Regions from separate parts of the Homo sapiens genome. Here region 1 is linked to region 2. Evidence: fine-mapped QTL for protein levels in blood plasma. Region 2 holds a variant in brackets. A gene starts in the other region. All regions are shown on one strand. Distances are between the middles of the regions.

Region 1 (11,304 bases), 31 Mb before region 2:
CAGCACCTGGGACTCAGGCCCCCCCTGGCCCTCCTGGAGCTGAGCTCCCGGGTGGAGCCCTCCCCATCAGCCCTGCCCATCTGTCTCCACCCGGCGGGTATCCCCCCGGGGGCCAGCTGCTGGGTGTTGGGCTGGAAAGAACCCCAGGACCGAGGTGAGACCCCTGGGTCACGGGAACGAGGAGTAGCTGGAGGCCAGAGCCCTGGAACAACTTTGTCTCCTCTCCCCAGTCCCTGTGGCTGCTGCTGTCTCCATCTTGACACAACGAATCTGTGACTGCCTCTATCAGGGCATCCTGCCCCCTGGAACCCTCTGTGTCCTGTATGCAGAGGGGCAGGAGAACAGGTGTGAGGTACAGGGGCCTGGGCGTCCTGGAGTAGGCAGGGGAGAGGCAGTGTTGGACTACTGTACCCTAGAGAGATAGCAGAATTGGAATTTTTTTTTTTTTTTTTTTTTGAGACAGAGTCTCACTCTGTCCCCCAGCTGGAGTGCAGTGGCGCGATCTCGGCTCACTGCAAGCTCCACCTCCCTGGTTCATGCCATTCTCCTGCCTCAGCCTCCCGAGTAGCTGGGACTACAGGCACCCGCTACTACGCCCGGCTAATTTTTTGTATTTTTAGTAGAGACGGGGTTTCACTGTGTGAGCCAGGATGGTCTTGATCTGATCTCGTGATCCGCCGGCCTCGGCCTCCCAAAGTGCTGGGATTAGAGGTGTGAGCCACTGCGCCCGGCCAAGGAATTTTTTTTTTTTTTTTTTTTTTTTTTTGAGACTGAGTCTCGCTCTGGTACCCAGGCTGGAGTGCAGTGGTGTGATCTTGGCTCACTGCAACCTCCACCTCCCAGGTTCAAGAGATTCTCCTGCCTCAGCCTCCCTAGTAGCTGGGATTACAAGCATGCACCACCACACCTGGTTAATTTTTGTATTTTTAGTAGAGACAGGGTTTCACCATGTTGGCCAAGCTGGACTCAAACTCCTCACCTCAAATGATCCGCCCACCTTGGCTTCCCAAAGGGTTGGGATTAGAGGTGTGAGCCACTGCACCTGGCCAGGATTGGAATTATTGGGTATTTGGCCCCAAATGGGACCCTAGCTGGACCCGGGAGAGAAACCAGGGACCTGGATGTCTAGGGATGCAGACCAGAGTGCTTCGTGGCCAGACCCTGGGGAAAGGGGGAGGGGACCAAGAGGAAGGGCAGCAGACCCACGTGGCCTCGCTCCAACTCTGCAGATGACCTCAGCACCGCCCCTCCTGTGCCAGATGACGGAAGGGTCCTGGATCCTCGTGGGCATGGCTGTTCAAGGGAGCCGGGAGCTGTTTGCTGCCATTGGTCCTGAAGAGGCCTGGATCTCCCAGACAGTGGGAGAGGCCAACTTCCTGCCCCCCAGTGGCTCCCCACACTGGCCCACTGGAGGCAGCAATCTCTGCCCCCCAGAACTGGCCAAGGCCTCGGGATCCCCGCATGCAGTCTACTTCCTGCTCCTGCTGACTCTCCTGATCCAGAGCTGAGGGGCTAGGGTCCCAGCACCACTTCCCCCTTCTCCACCCTCTACTTCCCGCCCAGTGGGGCTGGAATGTGGCCCAGCCGGCTGGAACCTCAAGGGCCCCACCCACCGAGATTGCAGCGGCTCTGGCTAATTGGGCCTCAGTGCCCGGGCTATTTTGAACCCAGGAATCCTTGGGGGTGGTGGGAGGAGCGGACAATAAAGGTGTAAACACAGGTACCTGTGTGGCCTTGTGGCATCGCCGTGGGCAGGCTGAGGGGCTGGGCATCAGAGGCTAAGCGGGAAGCCCAAGGGGGAGGTCCCCTCCCTCCTCCCTCCTCCGGCCTCTGAGTCAGGCCTTGGGCTCTCAGGAAATGTACCCTGATAACCTGGCAGCGATTCCTTCATTCCTGTCCCAGGGCAGGGAAGTCGGGTGGCCAGCTGGCTGTGTGTCACCTGCCCAGTGGAGTCAGCACCCTCGGCACGTGCTGGACATCTCATCCCCTGCTCAGACCCGCTGCCCTCGCTGCCCGCCATAGACACACCTCAATGCACAATGCTCCGATGTATCCCCTGCACACACACAACACTTGGGCCCTTCAAGGGTCTGCCACTTTCACATTCTGCCCAGAACTTGGGTCCCTTATATGTGAACCTCACTCCCTTACCCACTGCTTACCTGCACCTCCCTGCATTCATTCAACCCGTGTTCCCTGGTGGCTACTAAGTCGTGGCACAATTGGGGTCTGATATATAAGCCCACAAAGTCCTCCCAATCTAGTGGGGACACATGTGGACATCCCTGGCTGGGATTGGGAAGATGTCATAGCAGTGATGTTTGAGCACAGAAAAAGGGAAGGTGGTTTCCAGCCAATGAATCTACAATTAAAAAGTAACGCAAAACCAGAGACGAGGTGCGGCAGCTCATGCCTGTAATCCCAGCACTTTGGGAGGATCGCTTGAGGCCAGGCATTCCAGACCAGCCCGGGCAACAAAGCAAGACCCCCATCTCCACTTTTTTTTTTTTGAGACAGAGTCTCATACTGATGCTCAGGCTGGAGTGCAGTGGTGCAATCTCGGCTCACTGCAACCTCCACCTCCTGGGTTCAAGCGATCCTCCTGCCTCAGACTCAAGTAACTAGGATTGCAGACTCAAGACACCATGCCGGACTAATTTTTGTATTTTTATTTAACTTATTTATTTTTAATTTTTTGAGACAGAGTTTTGCTATTGTCGCCCACACTGGAGTTCAATGGCGCAATCTCGGCTCACTACAACCTTCACCTCCCAGGTTCAAGCAATTCTCCTGCCTCAGCCTCCTGAGAAGCTGGGATTACAGGTGCCCACCACCATGCCCAACTAATTTTTGTATTTTTAGTAGAGGTGGGGTGTCTCTATGTTGGCCAGGCTGGTCTTGAACTCCTGACCTCAGATGATCCGCCCACCTCAGCCTCCCAAAGTGCTGGGATTTACAGGCGTGAGCCACTGCATCTGGCCTATTTATTTTATTTATTTATTTATTTTGAGATGGAGTCTCCCTCTGTTGCCCAGGCTGGAGTGCAGTGGCACAATCTTGGCTTCCCAGGTTCAAGCAATTCTCCTGCCTCAGCCTCCCGAGTAGCTAAGATTACAGGTATGCGCCACCACGCCTGGCTAATTTTCTTTGTATTTTTTAGGAGAGACGGGGTTTTACCATGTTGGCCAAGCTGGTCTCAAACTCCTGATCTTGAGAATGATCCTCCCACCTTGGCCTCACAAAGTGCTGGGATTATAGGTGTGAGCCACCACATCCAAGCTCCACAATTTTTTTTGTTTGTTTGTTTTTTGAGACGGAGTCTCGCTCTGTCGCTCAGGCTGGAGTGCAATGGCGCAATATCTCGGCTCACTGCAACCTCCACCTCCTGGGTTCAAGCGATTCTCCTGCCTCAGCCTCCTGAGTAGCTGGAATTACAGGTGCGTGCTACCACGCCTGGCTAATTTTTGTATTTTTAGTAGAAATGGGGTTTCACCATGTTGTTCAGGATGGTCTCAAACTCCTGACCTCGTGATTCGTGTGCCTTGGCCTCCCAAAGTGCCGAGATTAGAGGCGTGAGCCACCACACCCAGCCTCAACAGGTGTTTTGAACGGCCAGAGTGGCCCTCAAGGAGGATACATGCCTCACTCCCACCGCAGCCACACGGCAAGCCTTCTTTCCCTGAGCCTCTGCCCTCTGCACCCCATCCCCCCATCTTCGCCTTACCACCTTTTATAATCCCTTTCGGTCTCAGTTTCCAAGGCAATTCCTCGAGGACCCTTTCACAATGCCAGCCTTTGCCAGGCTGTGGTGTGCTCACGCCATTCTTTTTCATCACTATTCCTAGCTTGAAATTATTGTGTAATTGCAATTTTTTTTTTTAAGACAGGGTCTCCCTCTGTTGCCCAGGCTGGAGTGCAGTGGCGTGATCATAGCTCAATGCTTCGTTGAACTCCTGGGCTCAAGCAATCCTCCTGCCTCAGCCTCCCAAATAGCTGGAACCATAGGCATGCGCCACAATGCCTGCCTAATTTTTATATTTCTTTGTAGAGATGAGGCCTCGCTATATTCCCCAGGCTGGTCTGGAACTCCTGGCTTCAAGTGATGCTCCAGCCTCAGCCTCCCAAAGCCGACTAGCCACCTTGCCAGCCTGTTTGTGATTATTTGATTGAAGTGTGTCACCCCTACTTCACCATGAGCTCAGGGCTCAAGGGGGACGGGGCTGGTGCCTGTTTTGTCCTGGACACCTGGGAACATCATAGGCACTTAGGAAATGTCTGTGGGATGATTGGTGCTGCTCCACAAGCTCGCCACCACCCATGAGGTGCAGGCATCGCAGAAAGGGCCTGGCAGGGGACAGACCATAGTGTCTTAAGCTCCCATAACCAGCCTAAGGAGGGAGGGAAGAAGGGAGGAGTGGCTGTGGCTCCAGATAATAAAAGCTGGGGCCAGGCCCTGGGGGGCATAACTGGCCTGAGATAACCTGAAAGACCTGAGGCGGAGGAGAGTCGTCACATTCCAGGGAGACTGCACACACACACAAACCACATGCACGTGCATGCACGCACACTCAGACACACACACTACACACACAGGGACACACACAGCCTACACATGTGCACATACAGCCTGTACATGCACACACACACACATACCACACCACATAAGAGGACACACACAGCCTACACAGGCATACACACACACCACATACACACTACACACCGGGACACACACACAAAAGGCCTATGCATGTGCACACACATACACACGGACACATACATGCACACACACGGGCCTGCAGCTCTGAAAGGACTCATGACTTTGGTGGCAAGAGGAGCTGGCGGAGCCCAGCCAGTGGGCGGGGCCAGGGGAGGGGCGGGCAGGTAGGTGCAGCCACTCCTGGGAGGACCCTGCGTGGCCAGACGGTGCTGGTGACTCGTCCACACTGCTCGCTTCGGATACTCCAGGCGTCTCCCGTTGCGGCCGCTCCCTGCCTTAGAGGCCAGCCTTGGACACTTGCTGCCCCTTTCCAGCCCGGATTCTGGGATCCTTCCCTCTGAGCCAACATCTGGGTCCTGCCTTCGACACCACCCCAAGGCTTCCTACCTTGCGTGCCTGGAGTCTGCCCCAGGGGCCCTTGTCCTGGGCCATGGCCCAGAAGGGGGTCCTGGGGCCTGGGCAGCTGGGGGCTGTGGCCATTCTGCTCTATCTTGGATTACTCCGGTCGGGGACAGGTAAGTGAGGACGTGGGGGCAGGGTGGGGACAATGCACTGGAGGGAGCCGGCGTGATCATTTTCTGGGGTGTGCCCTTGTCTGGGGCCCAAGAAAACCCCCGGCCTCCCTAGCTCTTGGCCTCTCTTTCCCACCTTGGCTCTGTCAGGGAAGGGGCCAGCCCTCTGGAGCAGTGGTGGGTACTAAGGGGTCAGGGAACCCGAGTCTTCCCTACTCACCCCTCCTCTTTCTCTTTCTTTCTAGGAGCGGAAGGGGCAGAAGGTGAGACTTTCCTCGGAGAGGGAGGAGGGGAGGGGGAGGTGACTTGGATCGGATTCCCCTGGGGTTTAACCAGTGCCTGGCCTTCAGCTGGGCTGCCTTCCAACTAGATTCTCTTAGGGCTCCCAGAGTGGGGGGTTTTAGCCCTCACCTTATGGGCAGAGAAGCAGGGACTTGCCCAGGGCACACTGCCAGTGAAGGTGCAGCTGGGATTCAGATCCACGTCTGACTCCCAAAGTGGGGCAATCGAGGTGGTTTTTTTGGTTTGGTTTTTGTCTTTTGAAACAGGGTCTGGGTCTGTCGTCACCCAGGCTGGAGTGCAGTGGCCCGATCGCAGCTCACTGCAGTCTCAGTGATCCAGCCTCCCGGGCTCACGTGATCCTCCCACCTCCCCACCTCAGCCTCCCTAGTGGCTGGGACTACAGGTGCATGCCATCACACCCAGCTAGTTGTGTTTTGTTTTTGTTTTTGTTTTTGTTTGGTAGAGATGTGGGTCTCACTATGTTGGCCGGGCAGGTCTTGAACTCCTGGGCTCAAGCGATCCTCCTGCCTTGGCCTCTCAAAGTGCTGGGATTACAGGTGTGAGCCACCGTTCCCATCCTGGAGGTGGTTTTGAGGGAACCAAACCAAGGGTCTCCTTTCTTGGAAGGCACCCAACCCAGCTCTGAGTCAGACCGGCTTTCAATCCTGGCTTCCCCATGCACTGGCTGTGTGTCATTGGCCAAGTCCCCCCACTTCTCTAAGCCTTAGACTCCTCACCTCTAAAATGAAGCTGGTCATGTCCGTCTCCTGGGGCTGTGGAGAGGATGCAGGGAGATGAGGAAGCGAAAGCCCCTCCAGGGCCTGGCACAGCCGCTAGGCTCTCTAAATAGTGGCTATTGTCATGATGATAAGGGAGAGAAAGATCTGGTCTGCAATTTTCTCTGCTCCTAGATGACTTTGTGAAGAGCAGTTGGGCTCCACTCCAAAGTGGCCTCAATGGGGGTGGGGCTGGGGCTGTCCTGGAAACTAGACATTCACATCACAGGAGCCCAGTTCTGCTGTTGGTTTGTTGAATATATGTCCACGACGCCACAGGCACTGCAGACATGAGAATCTGCCCCTAGGGAATGCCCAGATTGGTGTGGTGGAAACAGACACAGTTGTGGACTCCGGAACAATTGTGAGACTGGGCAGCATCGGGGAGCATGGTGGAGGTTGGGGGGTGCTGGGCTCGGAGGCAATGCCCAACTCAGCCAGCAGAAGCCCGCCTGTCTACGGAGGGGCTGCTGTTCCAATCAAGCATCCACAGGCAAAGGGAAGTTTGCCAGACAGTAAGGATGGGGAAGGGCATACCAGGTAGAGTGACCTGGATCAGCCAAGGTCCCGGGTAAACAAGTGTGTGGCCTGATGTACACAACTGAAGGGTCCAGAGGGGACGGCTGGGTCCGATGGCGGTGCCATGGTCTGTCTGGAATGTATCTTAAGGACCGCGTGGAGCCAAGAAGGGTTTAAGCAGGGCTGTGGCCTGGTCAGATTGGGGGTTTATGAAAATCTTCAGACTTGTAAGGGGCGGGATGGATGGAAGGCTTGCAAGGAGAGAAGCTGCCATGAGACCTGAATTAGGTAATGGGTAGTGGACAGAAGGGGCACAACTGCCCATGCCTGGGAGGGGACAAAGGGGTGTTGACTCCTGTGAACCCACTTCCCAAGCTCTATATCAGAGCTCCTGGGCTGCATAGGAGTGGCCAGGCTAACAACCTGACCCCTTCCCTTCCTCCCTGGGCAGCTCCCTGCGGTGTGGCCCCCCAAGCACGCATCACAGGTGGCAGCAGTGCAGTCGCCGGTCAGTGGCCCTGGCAGGTCAGCATCACCTATGAAGGCGTCCATGTGTGTGGTGGCTCTCTCGTGTCTGAGCAGTGGGTGCTGTCAGCTGCTCACTGCTTCCCCAGGTACCAAATGGTGAAAGTCAAAAGTGGGCTGGAGGTCAAAGTTAATGGGTCAATCCAGGTCAGAGGTTGGGGTTCTTGGGTTGGGTCTGAGAGTGTCAGTTCTAAGTCTGGAAGGACCAGTTAGGAGTGAAGGTGAGGGGTCAGAGGTTACATGATAAAACTAAGGTGCAATTTGAGACCTAAAAGGGGCTGATCGGAATCAGGGGTTGGCAGTGGGGGTTGGGGAACAAGGAGAGGTCTCCTGGGTCTCAGCCTTTGCCCCCTGCCTGCAGCGAGCACCACAAGGAAGCCTATGAGGTCAAGCTGGGGGCCCACCAGCTAGACTCCTACTCCGAGGACGCCAAGGTCAGCACCCTGAAGGACATCATCCCCCACCCCAGCTACCTCCAGGAGGGCTCCCAGGGCGACATTGCACTCCTCCAACTCAGCAGACCCATCACCTTCTCCCGCTACATCCGGCCCATCTGCCTCCCTGCAGCCAACGCCTCCTTCCCCAACGGCCTCCACTGCACTGTCACTGGCTGGGGTCATGTGGCCCCCTCAGGTGAGGTGGGACGCTGGGTGCCTAGAGGTGTGGAGGGGCACCTGACTTGGGGAGGGGCCCAGGGTAAGCCTCTTTTACCCCCACAGTGAGCCTCCTGACGCCCAAGCCACTGCAGCAACTCGAGGTGCCTCTGATCAGTCGTGAGACGTGTAACTGCCTGTACAACATCGACGCCAAGCCTGAGGAGCCGCACTTTGTCCAAGAGGACATGGTGTGTGCTGGCTATGTGGAGGGGGGCAAGGACGCCTGCCAGGTAAGCACAGGCCCGGGGGGCAGATGACCAGTGCAACTTCGGAAAGGAGGCCTGGCCCGGTCCTGATGGCTGCTGTGTGGCTTCTCTCCTCAGGGTGACTCTGGGGGCCCACTCTCCTGCCCTGTGGAGGGTCTCTGGTACCTGACGGGCATTGTGAGCTGGGGAGATGCCTGTGGGGCCCGCAACAGGCCTGGTGTGTACACTCTGGCCTCCAGCTATGCCTCCTGGATCCAAAGCAAGGTGACAGAACTCCAGCCTCGTGTGGTGCCCCAAACCCAGGAGTCCCAGCCCGACAGCAACCTCTGTGGCAGCCACCTGGCCTTCAGCTCTGCCCCAGCCCAGGGCTTGCTGAGGCCCATCCTTTTCCTGCCTCTGGGCCTGGCTCTGGGCCTCCTCTCCCCATGGCTCAGCGAGCACTGAGCTGGCCCTACTTCCAGGATGGATGCATCACACTCAAGGACAGGAGCCTGGTCCTTCCCTGATGGCCTTTGGACCCAGGGCCTGACTTGAGCCACTCCTTCCTTCAGGACTCTGCGGGAGGCTGGGGCCCCATCTTGATCTTTGAGCCCATTCTTCTGGGTGTGCTTTTTGGGACCATCACTGAGAGTCAGGAGTTTTACTGCCTGTAGCAATGGCCAGAGCCTCTGGCCCCTCACCCACCATGGACCAGCCCATTGGCCGAGCTCCTGGGGAGCTCCTGGGACCCTTGGCTATGAAAATGAGCCCTGGCTCCCACCTGTTTCTGGAAGACTGCTCCCGGCCCGCCTGCCCAGACTGATGAGCACATCTCTCTGCCCTCTCCCTGTGTTCTGGGCTGGGGCCACCTTTGTGCAGCTTCGAGGACAGGAAAGGCCCCAATCTTGCCCACTGGCCGCTGAGCGCCCCCGAGCCCTGACTCCTGGACTCCGGAGGACTGAGCCCCCACCGGAACTGGGCTGGCGCTTGGATCTGGGGTGGGAGTAACAGGGCAGAAATGATTAAAATGTTTGAGCACAACTTGCCGTGCATGTGTGAAGTGAAATGAAGAACATCCGCTCTTGGCCTCCCCTTCCCCTCCAAAGTCCAGGGCCACCAGAACTGACTTTATTAAAAAAATGACAAAACAGGTCTATACATATTTACAGGCTGGGAGCCAGGAGGCTCAGGTCCGACAGCAGGGGCCAGGCTGCTCACTTCTTGGAGAGCTTGACTTGCTTGTGCTTGGGGGGTGCCCACTTGAGGCAGACGGAGTCCACTGTGGGGAGAAGGGGCGGGAGGCAGGGCTGGGCCTGGGCCAGGCCAGCTCACACCTGGCTGCCCTCCTCTGGGCTCAGGCCAGTTTCACCTCCTCCAGGTGAGAACAAAAGGGCAGGCTGTGCTGGGGAGGGGTAGGGAAGCCCAGGAATGAGAGGCCTGCCCCGGGCTCCATCCTGGGAGCTGGTCTGACTGGTTTGGGATCATGTGACAGCAATAAGGAGGCCTTGACTCCTACCAGTCCATATACTGACACTCCCCCACCGCCCCCGACACACAGCAGCCCCCCACCCACCTGTGATGGGTGGTTTCTTATACTGGGCACTTTTGAGGTGCTCCTCCACCAGCTTGGGTGTGACACAGATCACGTGCTGGCCCTTCCAGTACTTGACCATATTGAGGGATTGCAGGGTACTGATGATGTCATTTTGGGTGATACTGGTCATCTGGCTGCAAAAAGGGATGAGAGCAAATGCCAGACCTGGTGCCCTTGTGGGATCTGGCCAGGATGGTGACAGGGTATGAGGAAGCAGGATCGTGGCCCATCTCAGGGCAAGTCCTGCCCCCAGGGCCCGGGAGGCCCCCTCACCTGAGGTCCTTGATGGACAGTGTGCCCCGGAAGTCCCGCAGGATCTCTAGCAGCACCCAGGACCAGTAGCTGCGGTAGCTGAGCTTGCCCAGGTCAGACAGTGGCTTCTCCGGGGAGCCGACTGTGCTCTCCAGCTTGGAGAGCTCATAACCTGGCAGCAGTAGAAAGAGGAACTTAGGATCCAGCCTGCCCTGGCACCCCTGCCCCACAGGTCTCCCCCTCCCAGACAGGCCAGGAACCACTCACTGAAAGCGATGAGGAACTTCCCGTAGCCGCGGCGTTGGTAGGGGGGCAAGGTCAGGATGCAGGCCACATTGTTTCCATCCGGGGACTCCTTCTCCTGCAGGAGGCAGGTGCTCAGGGCCGCTGGGGAGGCTCTGCCCCACTCTCTGTTCATGCCCACCTTCGCCCTCCCCACCCTCCCCACCCCGAGTTTCCAGACCCAGCACCTTGGAGAAGTAGCCAACAATGTGGGCCCCCTGCCGGTCCACCTCAGTCAGGATGTAAAAGACGAACGGCTCCACGTCAAAGTACAGTGTCTTATGGTCCAGGAAAAGCTTGGCCAGCAGACACAGGTTCTGACAGTAAATCTAGGGTTGAGGAGGGGGGAGACAGGCTCAGGGGGCAGGCACAGGCCCCACCCAGCTGGTTCCAGCGGCCGGCACCAGCCCACGCGAAGTGGGCGCCTCGCCAGGCCAGAAGGATTTCACACTGGAAGGAGTCTTCGGTCAGCCTCTGACGAACAGGGAACTGGAAATGAGAGAGCAACAGCACTTCGGAGGTGCCAGTGGAGCTGGATGAAGCCCGGCCACCCCTTCTGAGTGCCAAATACGAGCTGGGTGCCTTCCATGCAGGATCTGCTTCAGTCTTCACAGACATTAACTCTGTTTCAGCTCGTGAAACTGAGGCTCCGAGGCAGGAATTTAGACCGTCCTGTTCATGGCTGTGTCCCCAGCGCCTAGCACGAGTCTAAGTATGAAGCTGGGTGCCTGGTAAACGTCTGCTGAATGGAGGAACCTCGAGCCCTGTCTGTCCACTTGGCTGCACTCCAGGAGGGGGACAATGGGACCGAGTTTGGCTTCACGGCACACACTAAGGGGCTCCCTGGTTTATGACACCACAGCCACTCTCTCATCCAACCCGGCAGCTGTGCGAGCCCAGCACTGCCAGGCCCATCTTACTCAGGAGGAAGCTGAAGCTCCCAGAGTGGAAGTGCTTGCCCAGAGCCTCAAAGCTGGCAGAGCGCAGTTGGAAAGCACCCCCAC
Region 2 (11,304 bases):
AGTTAGCTCTAGGTCCCCAGTCTGACAGCAGTGGTTCTGTGATGGAGCCTCCGGGGGGGAGGTGAGGGCAGTTGCCTGGGCCCCCCTTGGTATGTAAGAGAAAGCAGCAGTACTCATGGAGGCTCTGTTGCACCCTCAGCTCTCCAAGAGGCTGAAGAAAGTGTGGAAGCCACAGCTGTTTGAGCGAGAGTTCTACAGTGAGATCCTGGACAAGAAGTTCACAGTGACTGTGACCATGCGGACCCTGGACCTCATCGATGAGGCTTATGGGCTCGACTTTTACATCCTCAAGGCAAGCGGGGTGGGGCGAGTCAGTGCACACAGGGTCTGGGATGGGCCAGTCAGACTCACGGGAGCCCCAGGTCAGCATCACACCGGGGCACGCTGACATCTGCACAGGAGGGTCACTGGGAAAGCGTGAGTGGGGCCATGCCCCTTTCTGGCCAGCACCAGTGGGGTTTCCTGCCTTCAGGAGAGGCTGTCGCTCTGTGGGTGGCTGACTTGCCCGTGGGGCCTGAGCGAGCACAGCCGCCCCTTTCCCTGCACTTGGACTTGCTTCTGTGCTGATCCCACCCCCCAGGCTGGGGTGCTGAGGCGGCCCCACCCGGGCCTTCTCTGTCCTGTCCTGGGACCACCAGCGGCTAGAGAGGAGCCAGGTGGGTTGGCTGGAAGGGTAGGTGGGGCCCTGCCACCAGCACCTGGCCCCATGTGAGCCTTCTGCCAGACCCCGAAGGAGGACCTGTGCTCCAAGTTTGGGATGGACCTGAAGCGAGGGATGCTGCTGCGGCTTGCCCGGCAGGACCCCCAGCTGCACCCCGAGGACCCCGAGCGGCGGGCAGCCATCTACGACAAGTACAAGGTGAGGGTTTCCGTCCCGCTCCCTACACCTGGGGACTCGTGGCCCGGCCCTGGGCCTCACTGCCCTTTCCATCTCTGCCTGCCTAGGAATTTGCCATCCCAGAGGAGGAGGCAGAGTGGGTGGGCCTCACGCTGGAGGAGGCCATTGAGAAGCAGAGACTTTTGGAGGAGAAGGTGAGTGTGTGAGCACCAGCCGATGCTGCCTGCCCAGAGCCTGGTGTTCAGGGTCTGGGAGTGTGCTGCCTTGGAGAGAGCCTGCACAAGGGGCTGGTGCACTGGGTGGGCTTGGGGAAGAGCTGCTGCTCTGCATTGCCCACCCAGAGGAGCATGGCCCGCTCCCTCCCCTCCAAGTCCCCACCCTGTTCTGTCCCAGGACCCTCAGTAGGAGGAGTGGGTTCCTGCACTGAGGGTTTGCTCGGCCACCAGCATCCCAGGGTCTGGAGCCTGAGGTAGCTGTCAGGACAGGGAGCCCCTGATGGCATGGCAGCTGGCTGCCCCTATTCCCTCTGTTTATCCATGACCACAGGGATGGGACAGGGGTATGTGTGTGCCTCCGGCATCCCCAAGGGAGGGGGTTCCTCATCTCACCGACAGGACTCTGCCCTCCAGGGCCTCTCATGCCCCGGTTCCTCTGGGCGGCAGCTGCTGATCCCATCCCCGTCGGAACTCCAGCTGCCCTGGGCTTCCCTGGCCTCACCATGAGCCCCTCTCTCCTTCAGGACCCTGTACCCCTGTTCAAGATCTATGTGGCGGAGCTGATCCAGCAGCTGCAGCAGCAGGCACTGTCAGAGCCGGCGGTGGTGCAGAAGAGAGCCAGTGGCCAGTGACCACACAGCTCCTCCATGCCTGACCAACAGGCCCAGCTTTCCCTGCCAGGCCCTTTGCACTGAGGACACAGATCCCGGGGAGCTGTGAGGGCCACCGGTGGGCAGTGGGTGGATCCTGGTTTCGTGTGCTGCCCATGCACCTTCCAGCCCGGGGCCAGCTTGGCAGGGATCCCCAGGAGGCCTGGGCCGCCCAGAGGCTCCTCTCAGGCTGGGCCCCGACGTTTGCGGCAGTGTTCCTTGTGCCCGTGGGGCCGGGAGCGAGTAAAGTCTGGGCCAGGCTGTGTGTGTGTATCTTTGCTTTGAGGACTGGTGTTCTCTTTGGGGATCCTGATCCTGTCACCCCTGCCCTTGCTGCCCCTGAGACCTCGGATGAGCCGTGGGCATTGACTCTGGCTGTGCCCGTCCCCCGGTGAGCTGCAGAGAGCGAGGTTCAATTCTGTGTTTTGTGTTTTTTTTTCTTTTCTTTTTTTGAGACGGAGTCTTGCTCAGTCACCCAGGCTGGAGTGCAGTGGCACGATCTGGACTCACTACAACCTCCACCTCCAGAGTTCAAGTGATTGTCCTGTCTCAGCCTCCTGAGTAGCTGGGATTACAGGCACCCCGCTATCATGTATGGCTAATTGTATTTTAGTAGAGAAGGGGTTTCACCATGTTGGCCAGGCTGGGCTTGAACTCCTGACCTCAGGTGACCCACCTGCCTCAACCTGCCAAAGTGTTGGGATTACAGGCGTGAGCCACCTCCCCTGGCCGTATTCTGTGTCTTTCTTTCCTCTGGTAGAGGGTCTGGTGTAGCTGGGGGCATCCAGGGGTGCAGCCGGATGATGCCCATTCCCTCTCCATTGCACATTCCTGCCCTTCTCGAACATTCTTCAGAGCAGGGCAAGGGAGGCTGTGGTCTGGCTCTGCAGGTACTGGAAGGAACCAGGAGGGGCAGGCCCTCAGAGGGCCGTGCTGGTGCAGCTGCCTGAGTCAGGAGCCTCTCCCTGGTCAGCACTGTTGTGGCGAGTGGTAGAGGAGGTGGGGGCGACACGAACTTGGGGACCTGCGACCTTGGTGTCCCCTCCTGCTACCTCCACCTGACCTGCAGGGTGGAGGTTTGGCCAGCGGGAAGCCGGGCTGTGCACCCTAAGGCATTTCCCGCCCTGAGGTTTTGGGGGTACCTGACCCTCTCCCCCAACCCTTACCTGGAAATCCTGATCCTCCGGACCCATTCGGTTTTCCCAGGGAGCACAGAGGGAGGGCTCCCCCAGCTGCATGTGCAGAATGACAAGGGGGGGTTTATGTCCCCTGAGCCTAAGCCAGCCCCAGCTGGTGGCAGGATGGGGTGAACTGGAGGCAGCTGCCTGACGTGGGCCTGCTGGCTGATTGAGGGGCCCCTGGCTCCCAAGGGGGCTGTGGCAGAGTCCAGAGGGAGTCTGCAGTTGGCCCTGCTGGACTGCAGGGGAGCACGTGGCTCCCGGGGCCGCAAGGGGTCCCTGGGGTCAGGACCTGCCTGGTTCAGAGCCCTGGGAGGGCCCCCGAGGTCTCTTTCCACACCGGGCACCTCTGCCGACATGTCCTGCTGCTCCCCACACCAGTGCCTTCATGTGATGCCCCTGCTCTGTGAACGACCTTGAAAAAAATTTTAGGCCAGGCACGGTGGCTCACACCTGTAATCCGAGCACTTTGGGAGGCCGAGGCGGGTGGATCACGAGGTCAGGAGATAGAGACCATCCTGGCCAACACGGTGAAACCCCATCTCTACTAAAAATACAAAAAATTAGCTAGGCATGTTGACACATGCCTGTGATCTCAGCTACACGGGAGGCTGAGGGAGGAGAATCGCTTGAACCTGGAAGGCAGAGCTTGCAGTGAGCTGAGATTGCACCACTGTACTCCAGCTTGGGTGACAGAGCGAGACTCTGTCTCAAAAAGAAAAAAAAAAAGGCCGGGCGCAGTGGCTCACGCCTGTAATCCCAGCATTTTGGGAGGCCGAGGCGGGCGGATCACGAGGTCAGGAAATCGAGACCTAACACGGTGAAACCCCATCTCTACTAAAAATACAAAAAAGTTAGCTGGGCATGGTGGCAGGTGCCTGTAGTCCCAGCTACTCGGGAGGCTGAGGCAGGAGAATGGCATGAACCCGGGAGGTGGAGGTTACAGTGAGTGGAGATCGCACCACTGCACTCTAGCCTGGGCGACAGAGCGAGACACCGTCTCAAAAAAATAAATAAAAATCATACCGGGCACTGTGGCTTACACCTATAATCCCAGCACTTTGGGAGGCTGAGGCAGGCAGATCACCTGAGGTTAGCAGTTCAAGACTAGTCTGGACAACATAGTGAAACCCCCATCTCTACTAAATACAAAAATTTAGC[C/T]GGGTGTGGTGGCGCACACCTGTAATCCCAGCTACTTGGGAGGCTGAAGCAGGCGAATTGCTTGAACCCGGGAGGTGGAGGTTGCAGTGAGCCACGATTGCACCATTGCACTCCACCTGGGCAACAAGAGCAAAACTCTGTCTCAAAAAAAAAACACTTTATGAAAAACAGACAGTGCTCAGTCAGCTCTGTGGGGCCATGAGGCTCAGCCCAGCTGCCCACAGCATGAGTGCTGTTCCGTGCCCCAGCTCTAGCCAGAGTTGGGATGTTGTGGCCACGCCCTGCCCTGCACAGTTCCCGTGTTCAGCTGTGAACTTAAGCCAAGCCCCCTCCAGCCCCTCGGCCTGCCCCTGACTCCCTGATGGTGTGTGTGTCCAGCACCTCCCAACTCAGGCCTCGGTGGCTGCCCCTCACTCACCACCTGCTCTTTCCCACCCCAACCAAGCCCCACGGTAAGCAGGGCTCCTGCCAAGGCCTGTAGGGCTTCCTGGGTCAGACTCTGGGGGCCCCAAGAAGTTAGGGGCCAGGCTTGGCAATGGGCTGGTAGGCGCTGGCCTCGGTCCCCCTGTCGGCCATGGTGGCACGTGCTTATCAGTGTGTCCTGACTTGTGTTGACTCAGGGTTGTGGGTTTGGGACCAGGCTACCAGCTGGCCAGTGGGAGAAGCTGCATTTGGCCTCAGCAGGTTACCTCCTCTGCCAGTCACCTCGATGGAACCCATGGCTGTTTAGTCCTCCCGCAGGGGAGGCCAGGCCAGACTGAGGTGGGGTCTGGGTGTGGCCAGGGCCCTGACAACTTTCTGGTCAGAGGCCACAAAAGTCCTTGACTGAGAAAAAGGTAAGAGGCCTTCCGTAAATGCCGGACCCATCCCTCAAGACCAAACCGTGACTCAGGTCTGGGACAGACCCAGCAGCTGGATCCAGCATGCTATTCTGCCTTCTGGGTTGTGGGGAGGGGTCCCAGGGACTGTACCGGCTCCAACATGTGTGTGGGGAACTGAGAACTGAGCTGGGAGCCCGGGCAGCCAACCTGGGAATGGCTGCTGGCCACCCCTCCCCGCCCTCCCCGCCCTCCCCACGCCCACCCCGCCCTCCCCGCGCCCACCCCACCCCTTCCCTGCCCTCCCTATGCCCACCCCACCCCTTCCAGAGCCAGGCCGGGCTGGGGCCACCAGACCCTCCTTCTGCCATCCTCACCAATCACACCTGTCAGGCTCCTTCCTGAAGTGTTGGACTCCGTCTCTGAGAACGGCCAGTTCTCCCTCACTGAGGCGTGCAGACCCTCAGGCACCTGGAGTGGGAGAGGGATCTGTGCAGAGCAAGATCAACCCCACAGGAGGCAGAGCTGCCCTGGGCCGGCCTGCACCAGCCCCAGCCTCTCGGAGCCCTCAGGGGCCAGGAGTTCCCCACGCGTGTCCCAGGCTTGGCAGAGGCCATGTGTTTCCATGACAACAGTCAGCCGCGGTGTCGGGCAGAGAATGGGCTGTGGACCTGAGGGTGGACTCCGGGGTGGACCCTCACGGCTATGGGCAGGGATCCCTTGGGGGTAGAAAACTGGAGGACTGGAAGGGGTGTCAGTGACCCCATCACTCCACATAGAGACGGGGAAGCCAAGGCCAGGAAGGGTAGGGTGGAGTGGATGTGAGGCTGGCCTGAGGCACCCAGTCACAAGTCCATGTCTGACCCCTGACCCCAAGGGTCTCGCCTGCTTCCTGAGTCCTGCTCAGGTGCACAGAGCAGCAGGATAGTGGAGGGAAGGGCATGGAGAGCGGGCGGGCCCTCTGGGTCGCTTGGCAACTCTGCTCCTGTCCTGTGCCCCCGTCAGGGTGCTGGGAGCCCAAGGGAGCTGCCGGGAGACCACTGTGTGTCCCGCGGGCCTGCTTAGGGCTCCGCCTCCACCTTCAGTCCTTGGCCGCCCTCGCCCTCTCACCAGTGCCCGTCTGTAACTCCAGCCCTCTGCTGGCCCCAGGCACGGGCTGGATTGTGTGGGGCTCCCAGGCTCCCTTGAGTCCCTGTCCCTCTGACACCCACCAGCCACCCAAGCTGGAACCCTGGCCACATGGCCACACCCAGCAGCCTGGGCTCCCGTGCGGTCCTGGCTCCCTCTGCCGCAGCGCCCCGCAGCCCTCCCTAGGCGGGCTCCAGCCTTGGACCATCCTCCCTAACCACTGCCTGCTGTCCTGGGATGGTGTCCCTACCCACATCCTGTCCCCAGACAAGCTGGTAGCTCTGAGCATGGCATGGGAAGGGCTTCAAGGCCGGGTTCCATCCTGGGACAGGCGGCTCACAACCAGGCCAGTGCGAAGAAGCTTGGATCCGGACCCAGAGTCCTGGGGGAGCAGCCGCGGCCCGAGACCCCCGGCGCCCAGAGTCCTGGGGGAGCAGCCGCGGCCCGAGACCCCCGGCGCCCAGAGTCCTGGGGGAGCAGCCGCGGCCCGAGACCCCCGGCGCCCAGAGTCCTGGGGGAGCAGCCGCGGCCCGAGACCCCCGGCGCCCAGGCCCATGCCAAGCCCGGTTCCCTGGGACTGGCCCCGAAGTCGCTCTCTTGAAGGTGGATCCCCATGGACCATGCTCCAGGCTCCCCTGGATCCCGGGTCCCTCTGATGGCCTTGGTAGTGGCCTCCCTGGGCTGCAGCAGCCCAAGGCTCTCGCTTGCTCCTTGCAGTCCTGCAGCTGTTCATCACCAGATTCTGCTCATCGGGTGCTGGGCCTGGGCCAGGAAGTGGGACTCAGCTTCCCGGGCTTAGGGGAAGCCTTCGAAGGGGTCTTGGCCAGGCAGTGCTGCTGTCAGAGCGCGTGGACAAGCCAACACTGTTTCTGGCTGTCACGGGGCTGGGGGCAGGGGGTGGTTCCGGGGATGCTCAGTGCCCTGCAGTGCCCAGGATGTCCACGGGTGACGGTTGAGAAGCCTCGTCTCCAGACATACGGGAAAGCTTTGCCAGGGGCCAATGCTGGTGCGCCCTGGAGGGAAGAGGCGTTCTTGGGACGCAAGAGGGCACTGCAGCCCAGGGGAGAGCGGGTGCAGCCGCAGGTGTGTGACTGATGGCGAGACGGTCTCCTCAGTGTGGCCAAAGACCCAGAGTCCTGCCCAGTGGGAACCCAAGGTCCAGGGAGCAAGGCCTCGGGAGGGGCCTCAGGGGGCTTGTGAGACGGGACTGTGTGAGCACGTGCACGTATTCCACAGGCCGCAGCTAACGAGAGGGTGGCGGAGTGGACTGTGGGCGGAGAGAAAGCTGGCAGCCTTTGCCGTCTGAGGTGGGCGAGAGCTTGGCTCTGCCCAGTGGGGCTGGGAAGTTCTCCCTGCTCCCGCTTCCACTGCTCCCACCCTTTATTTTCCCACCAGACTGGGCCTGGCCTTCAGCCCCTGAGGCAAGCCTGACCTGAAGTCCTCCTCTCAGCAGGGGCTGCAAGGCCAGTGCTTCTGCCTCTGCTGGGGGTAAGGCAGGGCACAGAGTGGCCCCGGACAGGCCAGGAGAGGGGCAAGGACCCCACACACTGGACATGAATGAAACACACGGAAACGCTTAACAGCTGTTGTGGGGACAGCTACCATGCAGCCATGCCCACCTCGTTCCTCCAAGGGGACCCTGGCATGGGCCCACGGGCAGTGCCGCCTGCTCCCTCAGCAGTCAGGAGTGGCTCGGGGGTGGCGGTGTCTAAAGGGGCTGGTTGCCATGGCTACCATAGGGTTCTGAGGCCCGTCATCTGGTCCCTGCCTCAGCCAATCGGCGGCAGGAGCCCGAGCTGCAGCCCAGAGTCACGCTTCTGCCTCCCAGCCACACAGTGGCCAAGAGCAGGGACCTGCTTCCCAGAGTGGCTGAAAGTGCTCGGACGGACGGCCAAGCCCATCATGGCGGACAGCGGGACGGTGGGGCGTGAGCAGGCACACGGAGCCAGGCAGGTGAGGTAAGCCGGGCAGGCGGCCGGGCGGACAGGTGGACGCGCCTCCTCTGCCCATTGTTCTCGCGGCTGCGGCCCTGCCCTCGGCCCACCCCACCCTCGAGTGCAAGCCCACACGCAGCGCCCGCACCCTCACCCTCAGACCCTCTCCGGGTGTCCCGAGGAAGGGTCAGGGGAAGAGACAAAGGGAGCAGGGTGAGGCAGGATGAATCCTGACGGACCTCGGACCCCAAAACCGCCCCGGTGGGTCTTCCACGTCAGGTTTCACATGGAGGCGGCATCAAAGACCCCCGACTGATCCAGGCCGGCGTCCCGGCCGCCACTCCAAGGTTAGGAGACAAGCCATGTCAAGTCGGTGCCGTTTAAGCAGCATTTTTTCGAGGAGAAAAAAAAAAAAGAAACAGAAGCGATATAAAGAAAAAAAATGTCCACCTATGACACGGGAAGCGGCCAGCCCGATGGATCAGAAGCGCCAAATCCCATTACTCGGGACTTCAGGGACAGGCCCTGCAAGGGCAGCTGCGATTAAGAGCTTGTCAATGGACTCTCCTTTAGAGATCAAAGCGGGGCGTGCTTGTGTGTGTGTGCGTGTGCACGTGTGTGCGCGTGCACGCGTGTACGTGCAGGAGCGGACACTGTGGGGTGACAGCACAGAGGTCGTGCACCGCAGCACCACGGGGCCCATACGTCGCCGACGCGGCCACCTCCACACTGCTTGCGTCCTTGCTGCCGTGTGCGACGTGTGTGGACGCGGCTGGGGGCCTGGGCCGGGTACCTGGTCCCAACACCTGCACCCTTTCAAAGGCCTCCACCTCCTGCTAGAGGCCGTGCCTTCCCCAGGTTCTGCCCAGAGGAGCCCGCAGGGGCCGAGCTGGGTGTGAGGACAGCCGTGGCTGCGTCTCCTCCCCCCGACCACGTCCTGCTGCCCACAGAGGCCTTGAGCTCTCAGTTGGCCTGGCAGGCGCGCCCTGGGGGTTCAAAGCTCCCGTTGACACGATTGTTAGGTTATTAGGTAAACTCTGAGACGTAAATCTTTTAATCCACTGTGGCTAATCCGGTTCACTTTTGTTTGCCACGACAGACGCCGCGGCGACAAAGGGGCCTGGGGCCCAGCACACACAGTCACACGCTCAGAACTTGGCCGCGGCCTCAGGGTTCCTAGGCAGTGGAGAGAGACATCTTGGGACAGCCAAGCAGAGGGAGGCGGCGGAGGGCACAGGTGGGCGGGGGCGCAGGTGGGCCGGGGCAAAGGCAGCTGCCCGCTGGGGGCCGCACTTCCTCACCTCCCATTTAATGTCCCCTTGCCAGCTCGAGGGGGAACCGCTGGGCACTGGGGTGTGCAGGTATCGGGGCCGCTGGGGATAGTGGGCAGAAGGACAGATGAGCACCAACGGGGGGGCGGCAGCGCCCGGAGAGGCGTGTGGGATGGAGGCCGTCAGGGCAGGGAAGGGCGTTCAGGTGAGGGAACAGCAGGGACAAGGACTGTGGTCGGTGTGGCAGGGGCAGGAGTCCCCCCAACAAGGACAGGAAGCGGCCTGAGGCTGCCCAGGGAGGTGGGACGTCACCTGCTACTTCCCGAAGTCAGCGCGAGGCCCCTCGGGGCATGGCCCCTGCACTTGGATGCCACCTCTTTTTGGGAAAACAGCACTGAGGTTGGGGGAGGCCAGCAGGCCCTGCCCTGTGCTCACAATGTGCCTGGGACACCAGACCTGGTCCATGGCCAGCCGTGGGCTCCATCCCGCCACCCGGCCTGTCAGAGAGGGTCACACACGGACCTCTGGGGCTGTGAGGCCAGGTCAGGACGATCACTTTGCCCAGGGGGACACTGGCACAAGGAGGTGCCTGCTTTGCCTAGGGCTACAGGCTGGCCCAAGACAAGGATGGGCACTCAGGTCTCCTGGGAGGCAGGTGCCAGGCCAGGCCCAACAGTCCCCTGATGTCAGCAGCTCCCGAGTTGGGAAGTGGTGGCCGCCCTCCCCTCCTACTTCCCCAGCCCCTGCGGCCGGACCCTCCAGGCAGGCCTACTTGACCACATCCTGGTATCCACCTGGCCCCAGTCCCAGCCCCTGGACACCCTGGGGTCAGAACTCTTCAGAAAGGCAGTGCAGGAGGACTCCCCTCAGGACACTGGGAGGTGTGGACAGTACCCTGGGATGGAGGGGACCGCCTCTGGGCCGCCTGGCTGGCCAGGCCCCCGCCCTGTTGCCAGTGCTTTCCTGTTGGCCTTGGCGTCCTGACCCTTGACCCCTGGAGGCCAGCGGGGATGTGGGGACTGTCAGGTCTGCTGGACGGGGCTGGGCGCAGGCGACGTGGGTGACGGCAGGTCTGGGGCCTGCCCCAGGGGACAAGTATGGACCCGGAGCCAGCGGGGACCAAGCACTGTGGCCACAGCAGCCGTTTCATTTCTTTTTCTTTTTTTTTTTTTTTTTTGAGATGGAGTCTCACTCTGTTGCCCAGGCTGGAGTGCCTTGGCACAATCTTGGCTCACTGCAACCTCTGTCTCCTGGGTTCAAGTGATTCTCCTGCCCCAACCTCCCCAGTAGCCGAGATTACAGGGGCCTGCCACCATACCTGGCTAATTTTTTGCATTTTTAGTAGAGATGGGGTTTCACCACGTTGGCCAGGCTGGTCTCGAGCTCCTGACCTGAGGTGATACGCCCACCTTGGCCTCCCAAAGTGCTAAAATTACAGGCGTGAACCACTGTGCCTGGCCTAATTTTTGTATTTTTAGTAGAGACGGGGTTTCACCATGTTGGCCAGGCTGGTCTCGAACTCTTGACCTCAGGTGATCCACCCGCCTCAGCCTCCCAAAGTGCTGGGATTACAGGTGTGAGCCACCGAGCCTGGCCACACACAGCACCCGTTTCTTTGGGCCCCTGCCCCGCAGCGGCTGAGTGGTTCACCCTCCACCTCTCTGTGGGTGGGTCCTCCTGACCACAGGTGCCCAGCCAATGGTGGGTCCCGGGGGCAGAGGCCGTCAGGTCATCCATGGCCATGGTGACAGTCACACTGACCTGATATTGGAGCCAGGGCATATGAGGTAGGGCCCTGCTCCCCTTCCCCCAGGCCTCTGCCTTTTGTGGGGACCAGGATCACTCCTGGGGCATCTGCCCTGCGGAGGCAGCTTTGGCTACAGAGCTATGTGGACCACTCCAAATAGGAAGCGTGTTGCAACATAGTTGGATGACACACCTGCCCGACAGGTGTGAGGGGGAGAGGAGGAAGGACCTATCTAGGGGCACATCAGTGCTAAGGGGGCTGCCAGATGTGGAGGCCGGGGAGGCCCCAGCCCAAAGTGACACCAACAGCTGGGATGGCCCAGGAAGCCCCTGGCAGGGTGTGTCTCTCAGGAAGGTGGCAGAAC

Direction of the effects. Positions count from the first base shown, and alleles are read on the strand shown. Strength reflects both the effect of a copy and how common the allele is.
For the plasma level of the protein whose gene starts at base 4,919 in region 1, allele C in region 2 goes with a higher level than allele T (moderate association).

Evidence for each region. A credible set is the group of variants that fine-mapping cannot tell apart. PIP is the posterior inclusion probability: the model's chance that the variant is causal. The UK Biobank Pharma Proteomics Project read protein levels with antibody pairs (Olink). The fine-mapping took linkage between variants from a reference panel, not from the people measured, so its PIPs are less certain.
Region 1: PRSS8 starts here. The variant in region 2 is the best candidate, but not a certain one, in a credible set for the plasma level of the PRSS8 protein (UK Biobank, PIP 0.60).

Annotation. Positions count from the first base shown.
Region 1 is chr16:31,129,342-31,140,645 of GRCh38, reverse strand. It overlaps PRSS8 (serine protease 8), which reads left to right and starts at 4,919. Exons shown (of 6, transcript NM_002773.5): 1 at 4,919-5,232; 2 at 5,475-5,492; 3 at 7,258-7,420; 4 at 7,693-7,964; 5 at 8,051-8,217; 6 at 8,311-9,213. The coding sequence starts at 5,148. The coding sequence ends at 8,637. KAT8 (lysine acetyltransferase 8) reads right to left here. Exons shown (of 11, transcript NM_032188.3): 7 at 10,489-10,629; 8 at 10,286-10,379; 9 at 10,040-10,190; 10 at 9,746-9,900; 11 at 9,287-9,451. The coding sequence ends at 9,387. It overlaps PRSS36 (serine protease 36), which reads left to right. Exons shown (of 15, transcript NM_173502.5): 13 at 1-154; 14 at 231-352; 15 at 1,230-1,720. The coding sequence ends at 1,508. RefSeq lists enhancers at 1-502, 784-1,476, 1,477-2,170, 5,858-6,804, 7,753-8,698 and 2 more.
Region 2 is chr16:358,056-369,359 of GRCh38, reverse strand. It overlaps MRPL28 (mitochondrial ribosomal protein L28), which reads left to right. Exons shown (of 6, transcript NM_006428.5): 3 at 140-292; 4 at 725-859; 5 at 946-1,032; 6 at 1,578-2,391. The coding sequence ends at 1,685. Among named protein-coding and RNA genes, the nearest start is that of MRPL28, 6.8 kb to the left of the region's middle. RefSeq lists enhancers at 4,640-5,146, 5,147-5,653, 5,654-6,161, 6,790-7,637, 7,638-8,486. The variant C/T (reference allele first, on the strand shown) is at 4,043.